Linked DNA regions of Homo sapiens: region 2 is linked to region 1. The links come from fine-mapping of genetic effects on gene expression. A gene starts in region 1. The other region holds a variant in brackets. All regions are shown on one strand. Distances are from middle to middle.

What was found. PIP is the estimated chance that this variant, and not a neighbour inherited with it, causes the effect. A credible set is the group of variants that fine-mapping cannot tell apart.
Region 2: its variant is the best candidate, but not a certain one, in a credible set for the expression of LINC02070 in cerebellar hemisphere (GTEx, PIP 0.70).

Annotation. Positions count from the first base shown.
Region 1 is chr3:86,480,661-86,483,579 of GRCh38, reverse strand. It overlaps LINC02070 (long intergenic non-protein coding RNA 2070), which reads right to left and starts at 1,637. Exons shown (of 2, transcript NR_135563.1): 1 at 1,523-1,637. RefSeq lists an enhancer at 1,651-2,850.
Region 2 is chr3:86,504,606-86,507,524 of GRCh38, reverse strand. No RefSeq gene overlaps it. Among named protein-coding and RNA genes, the nearest start is that of LINC02070, 24 kb to the right of the region's middle. The variant A/G (reference allele first, on the strand shown) is at 1,526.

The sequences.
Region 1 (2,919 bases):
TAAATGAGTTTAGGTATAACGAGAGACATGAAAATAAATGGCTAAAATGCAGTGGAGCTGTGTTCAGAGGTAGACATATACATAGGTGTCTTAGTACATTTATATTGCTATAAAGGAATACGTGAGACTGGTTAATATTTATATATATTTATAAAGAAAAGAGGTTGTTTTAACTCAGTTCTGCAGACTGTGCAAGCAGCATTACACCAGTATCTGCTTCTGGTGAGGTCTCAGGAAACTTACAATCATGGTGAAAGCAAAAGGAGACAGCATCTCACATGGAGAGAGCAAGTAAGAAAGAGAGAAAGAGGTACCAGGTCCCTTTTTAAACAACCAGATCTCATGTGAATTCATTACAATGGGGAGGGCACCAAGCCATTCATGAGGGATCCGTTCCCATGACCCAAACAAACACCTCCCACAAGGCCCTTCCTCTAATACTGGAAATCACATTTCAACATGAGTCTTGGAGAGGACAAATTTCCAAACAATATTAATAGGCTAATATGAATCAATATGAGGAAAGGTTTCCAATATTTGAAATGCTGTGGGGAGAGGAATGCAAGAGGAGGGGTCCAGAAAACTTCAGTGAAGAGATTACTTCTAAGTTGAGTCTTAAAAATTGATGAGGTGGCCAGGCACGGTGGCTCACACCTGTAATCCCAGCACTTTGGGAGGCCCAGGTGGGTGGATCACAAGGTCAGGAGTTCAAGACCAGCCTGGACAAGATGGTGAAACCCCATCTCTGCTAAAAATACAAAAATTACTCAGGCATGATGGTGGGTGCCTATAATCCCGGCTACTCGGGAGGCCGAGGCAGAAAATTGCTTGAACCTGGGAAGCGGAGGTTGCAGTGAGCAGAGATTGCACCACCACACTCCAGCCTGGGTGACAGAGTGAGACTCAGTCTAAAAAAAAAAAAAGGTTGACTAGGTATTAGGTATTAGCAAGGCAAAGAAAGAGAGAGTAGTTCTAAGGAGGGATCAATGTGGAAGGCAAAAGTACACGATAAAAAAAGATAAAAGATGAAGAAGAGAAAGCATGAAGGAATCTGATTATGCCTTATTTGCCTTGTTCACCTCTTTATTTATTGTCCATTTGTTTCTTCAACAGACATTTGCACAGCTCATAGGTACCATGCAGAATGCTTCACAGTGAAGAGCCTGAACTTTGTACTACATGTGAGAACAATAAATTTCCTATGAGCTTGTATTTTAGGACATGTTACTTTGACATTTCTCTGCAGGGAAAAATGGAAGGGTTTAAGACTGCAGGCATGAAGAGAGGCTGTTGTAATAATCCATGAAAACTTGATAATGGTCCACATTAGGGCAGTGGTAATAGAGAGGATCAGACTGATTTAATAAATATTTAAAAACAGCAGGGTGGAGCAAGATGGCAGAATAGAAGGCTTAACTGATCACCGTTGCTGCCTGCAAGAAAATCAATTACCAATTTAACAACTATCTACACAAAATAGTACTATCATAAGAACCAAAAATAAGGTGAGCACTTACAGTACCTGGTTTTAACTCCACAGCATTGAAAAAGGCACTGAAGATGTAGGAAAAACAGTCTTGAATCACTGATACCACCATTCTCCCATCCTGTAGCAGCAGCAGCATGATGCAGAGAGTGATTCTGTGAACTCAGGAGAGGGGGAGTACAACATTTGTAAGGCATTGAATTCAGTGTTGCTCTGTTATAGCAGATGGCAAAACTGGACCAAATTCAACTGACTCCAACCTACAAGGGAGCACTTAAACCAACCCTTGCCAGGGGGGAATCCCTGATTCCAGCAGTCTGAACTTGAGTTCCCACAAACCTTGCCACCATGGGCTAAAGTGCTCAGGTGCCCTACCTAATGTTAAAGGCCATCTAGACCATGAAGACCGCAGCTCCTAGACAAGTCCTACTGCTGAACTTGGCTGACAACCAGTGACATGGGGGCATGTGACATACTGAGGCACCAGCTAGGGCAGCCAAGGGAGTCCTGGCATCACCCCACTACTTAACCCCCAGCTGCACAGCCCACAGCTTCAAAAGGAGCTTCTACTGAGGAGGGGAGTGAGAAGAGCAGGAAAGACATTGTCTTACATCTTGAATAACAGCTCAGCCACTGCAGGATAGAGCACCAGTCAGAGTCATGAGGCCTCCTTTCCAAGCCCCAGCTACTGGATGACATTTCTAGACACACCTTGGGCCAGAAGGGAACCTGCTGCATTGAAAGGAAAGACCCAGCCCTAGCAGAATTTATAACCTGCTAACTGAAGAGCCCTGGGGCCCTGAACAACCAGCAGTGATATCCAGGTCTTACATAAAGGGCCTCTGGTGAGCCTCTGATACTTACTGGCTTCAGGTGTGACTCAGCACATTACCAGTTATGGTGGTGTTAAGGCAAGACTACTTATGCTTAAGAAAGGCAGGGGGAAAGTTTGCTTGCACCTTAGTTCACAGCTCACCCACAGCAGGGTAAAGCAACTAGGAGTCTCTTAGAATCTGGATTGCAGGACTTGGCTCTTAAATGACATTTCTAAACCTAATCAGGCCCAGAGGGGAATCCGCTGTCCTGTGGAGTCTCAGGCCAGGCAGCATTCACCACAAGCTGACTGAAGAGCCCTTGGGCCTTAAGGGAACATCAGTGGTAATCTGCTGGTACTGCCCATGGGCCTGTAATGATCAGGACCATAGAGTAAGACTCTTCTGCCTTTTGAAAGGGGAGAGAAGAGTGGAAATGCAGTTCTCTGTGATTCTCTGTGTTAAGCAGAAATTCTGGAATATGAAAAATGCAAGTAACTGCATCTTTTGATGTGAGTGCTAGCTCTGCCACAGTACAATGGAATACTATGTAGACTTCTAAGATTTTTTTTAACTACTCCTACTGCTAAGATGCCTTAACTCCTGAAGGCAACTTCGGAC
Region 2 (2,919 bases), 24 kb before region 1:
AATTTCAAATAAAATTAAATTAAATTTTAAAAAATTTAAAAAACCCAAATGTGTAAAAAATTACTCTTTTATCTTTTATCCACTAAAATTTACTGAGCACCTAAAATGTACCAGTAACAAATAATTAGCACATGTTACTGCAAAATACCTTTACTATCATCATCACAATTGGCATTATTATAATATTACCAGAAATCCACAAATGTTTATTAAAACACAACTATTGGAGAAATTGCAGTGTAGTGGTAGGAAAGACTATCTTTGTCCTACACTTAATGGAACTTATAGTCTATTGAAATAATAAAAAAATTTTACATGGTAGATTTCAATTTAAAAATGCATTCAGTTGCACCATCTATTTTCTCTTTATGACATGTTAAACTCTTAAATACCGAATATTTAACTTCTCTTATTTTCCTATTTTATCATAAACATAATCCTCTGGTTTTACTCATCCAGCTGCTTGTACCATGATACCTATCATTTAATCATATTATCACAAAGATACTACTTTCTGGAGCATCTGTCTGGGAAGGTTATTCGAGTTTAAGGATGCTGCAGTTACAATGGCACATTTAGTTATAAATATTCCCTGCATAAGCAGCTGGCCGTAGAATACACAAGCTCAGGAGGGAGAGCTGGGCTGGAGACTTGAAATTAATGAGTCATGTTGTTGGTAGATGAGGCCATTGATAAAACCACCCAGGAAAGGGAAAAAATTAGGTGAGAACGGGGAGAGAACCTAAGGATTTACGTCTAAGAAACAGATGGGATTGGTCAAAGGAGAAGCTTGCCTAGGAGACATGTAAGACTAGTCTGTGATACATGAGAAATTAGGAGATTGTGCCCTGGATGGGAGCTTACAAGAGCAGAGAGTGGTCAAACATGATTAAGATACTAGACTAAAAAATTTCAAAGTAGTTTCTGCAATTAGGGTATTAATGGTGACCCACAACAAGTGACTTCAGGGAGCTGGAATTGATTTTGTGTTTCAAGAGTGAATGTGGTCAGGAAGTGAAGAGAGCCAGACTGTATGATTATATTTGACAACATCAAGAGTACATTTTTATTTTATTTTTTTGTGTCCACACTTCTAAAAGTCAAATATTCTCTCTCTTTTCTAATCTCCTCCCCTTCCCTTCCTTCCCCTCTCTTTTCTCTTTCTCTCTCTCTCTCTCTCTCTCTCCTATCTTTGGTACCCTGAGACTACTTACCAGTATTCTTCAGACACTAGAATGCTGGAGTAAGAATTTGATTGACAGAAAAAAAAGTTGAAATTATATAATTCTTTATAAATGTTAAGTTTTACTTCCCTGGTACTGGATTCAACATGTGGAAGGAGTTAGGTGTTTGCTTCACATTTCTGCTTCTCTGGTAGTCAGCTAAAACCAATTTGGTAAATAACACTGCTCTCTGGGGGAACTGAATGCCAAGATTGGCAGCTAGTTCACTGAGTTCTCTCTGAAGTGGTTCAAGAAAGAAAAAAAAATTCTGATCTCTATGGAGCATTCTTCTAAAAACAGAT[A/G]TATCAACCCAATGAAAAATTCTTCACCAAAGCATTTATAGAGCAAACTTCCTGGTATTGAAATTTTGACATGGTAGACCAATCTAGGGAGATTTATACTTTTACTTTTATCCTAAAAAAACAGTATCATAAATTATTCCAAAACGATTCCTTCTCTATTTACAACACTACTTGGAATATGTTCTGGAACATGAGTTAAGTGATTATTTCACCCTTTTCTACATATTTGATGTAGCTCCCTGAATCTCTCCTAGTTTAATAAATTCTCCACATTATGCAAATAAACTCATACAACAGTGCCTAACACAGAAGAAGCATTCATTAAATATTAAGTATTTTGGGTGAGAGGCAAATCGTATGTCTTCCTTGAAGCTGAAATGCTCTGTGATTGCTTTTCAACCTCTTTGTGCATCTAGGATGCAGACACATAACCTAGATTTTAGCATAAGAAACACCCTCTATGGTTTTTGAATTGAAATACACTGACAGAAGGATATTAAAGAAACAGGGGCAACAGAAAATACATTCTGATGGCCAAGAGTGGCCATGGGGCAAACGTGCTGATTTCTGGGGCAAAAGTAGCAGTGCTTTTAAGAGCAGTCTAAGATGTCCATAGAAGCTGGATCATCCTGTGTTCAGTGGTAGAGACCTGTTCCTCTTCTGTGCCGTGAATTTGGCTAAGTTCTTGACTGCACCCTAGCATCCTTCGTCCTACTCTTTTTCTGTACTTCATTTTCAATATTTTGGGTGTTTTGTGATCTCACACTGTTTTTAAAAATTTATTTTCTGCTTAAACTGGAGTCAGACTTTTTAGCCTACAGCTAAGAACCCTGATAGATACAATTGCTATATACATCAGAACTCAGAAACAGTCACTAAGGACCTTATCAAATTTGCCTGACTATATATTATTAATACCTCAAAACAATTCAAGTGTGGTATACCAATGTGAAAATAATGTTTATTCTTCAGATCTTGCAACTAAATGAGATATAAATGCTTGGTTACTTAAAACATCAATTTGGTGACTGAGACCATAGAAGGTCATGTTTGATTTCCACCAATGGAGATGGTTTGTTCAAACTCAATGGGCCACTTTCTGGCTGATTTCTGGTGATGACCGCTGAAAAGCATGTTGATTTAAAAAAAAAAAAAACTGCTTAATAATGTCCCAAGCAATATTTCCAGCCTCTGTACTTTAAGGACCGTTTTGAATGTGATCTCCAGACACTACCTATTTGTTTACTTTCACAGCTCTGTGATTACCGCCCTTCCTGATGGACCACTGTCCTACCTCAATACCTTTGTTGCCAAAGCAGGAATTTTCTAGCTAATAAGGAAGTCCATTGAAAATGTGTGCCAGTTTCTTCCTGTTGAAGCTGGAAGACTGAGCT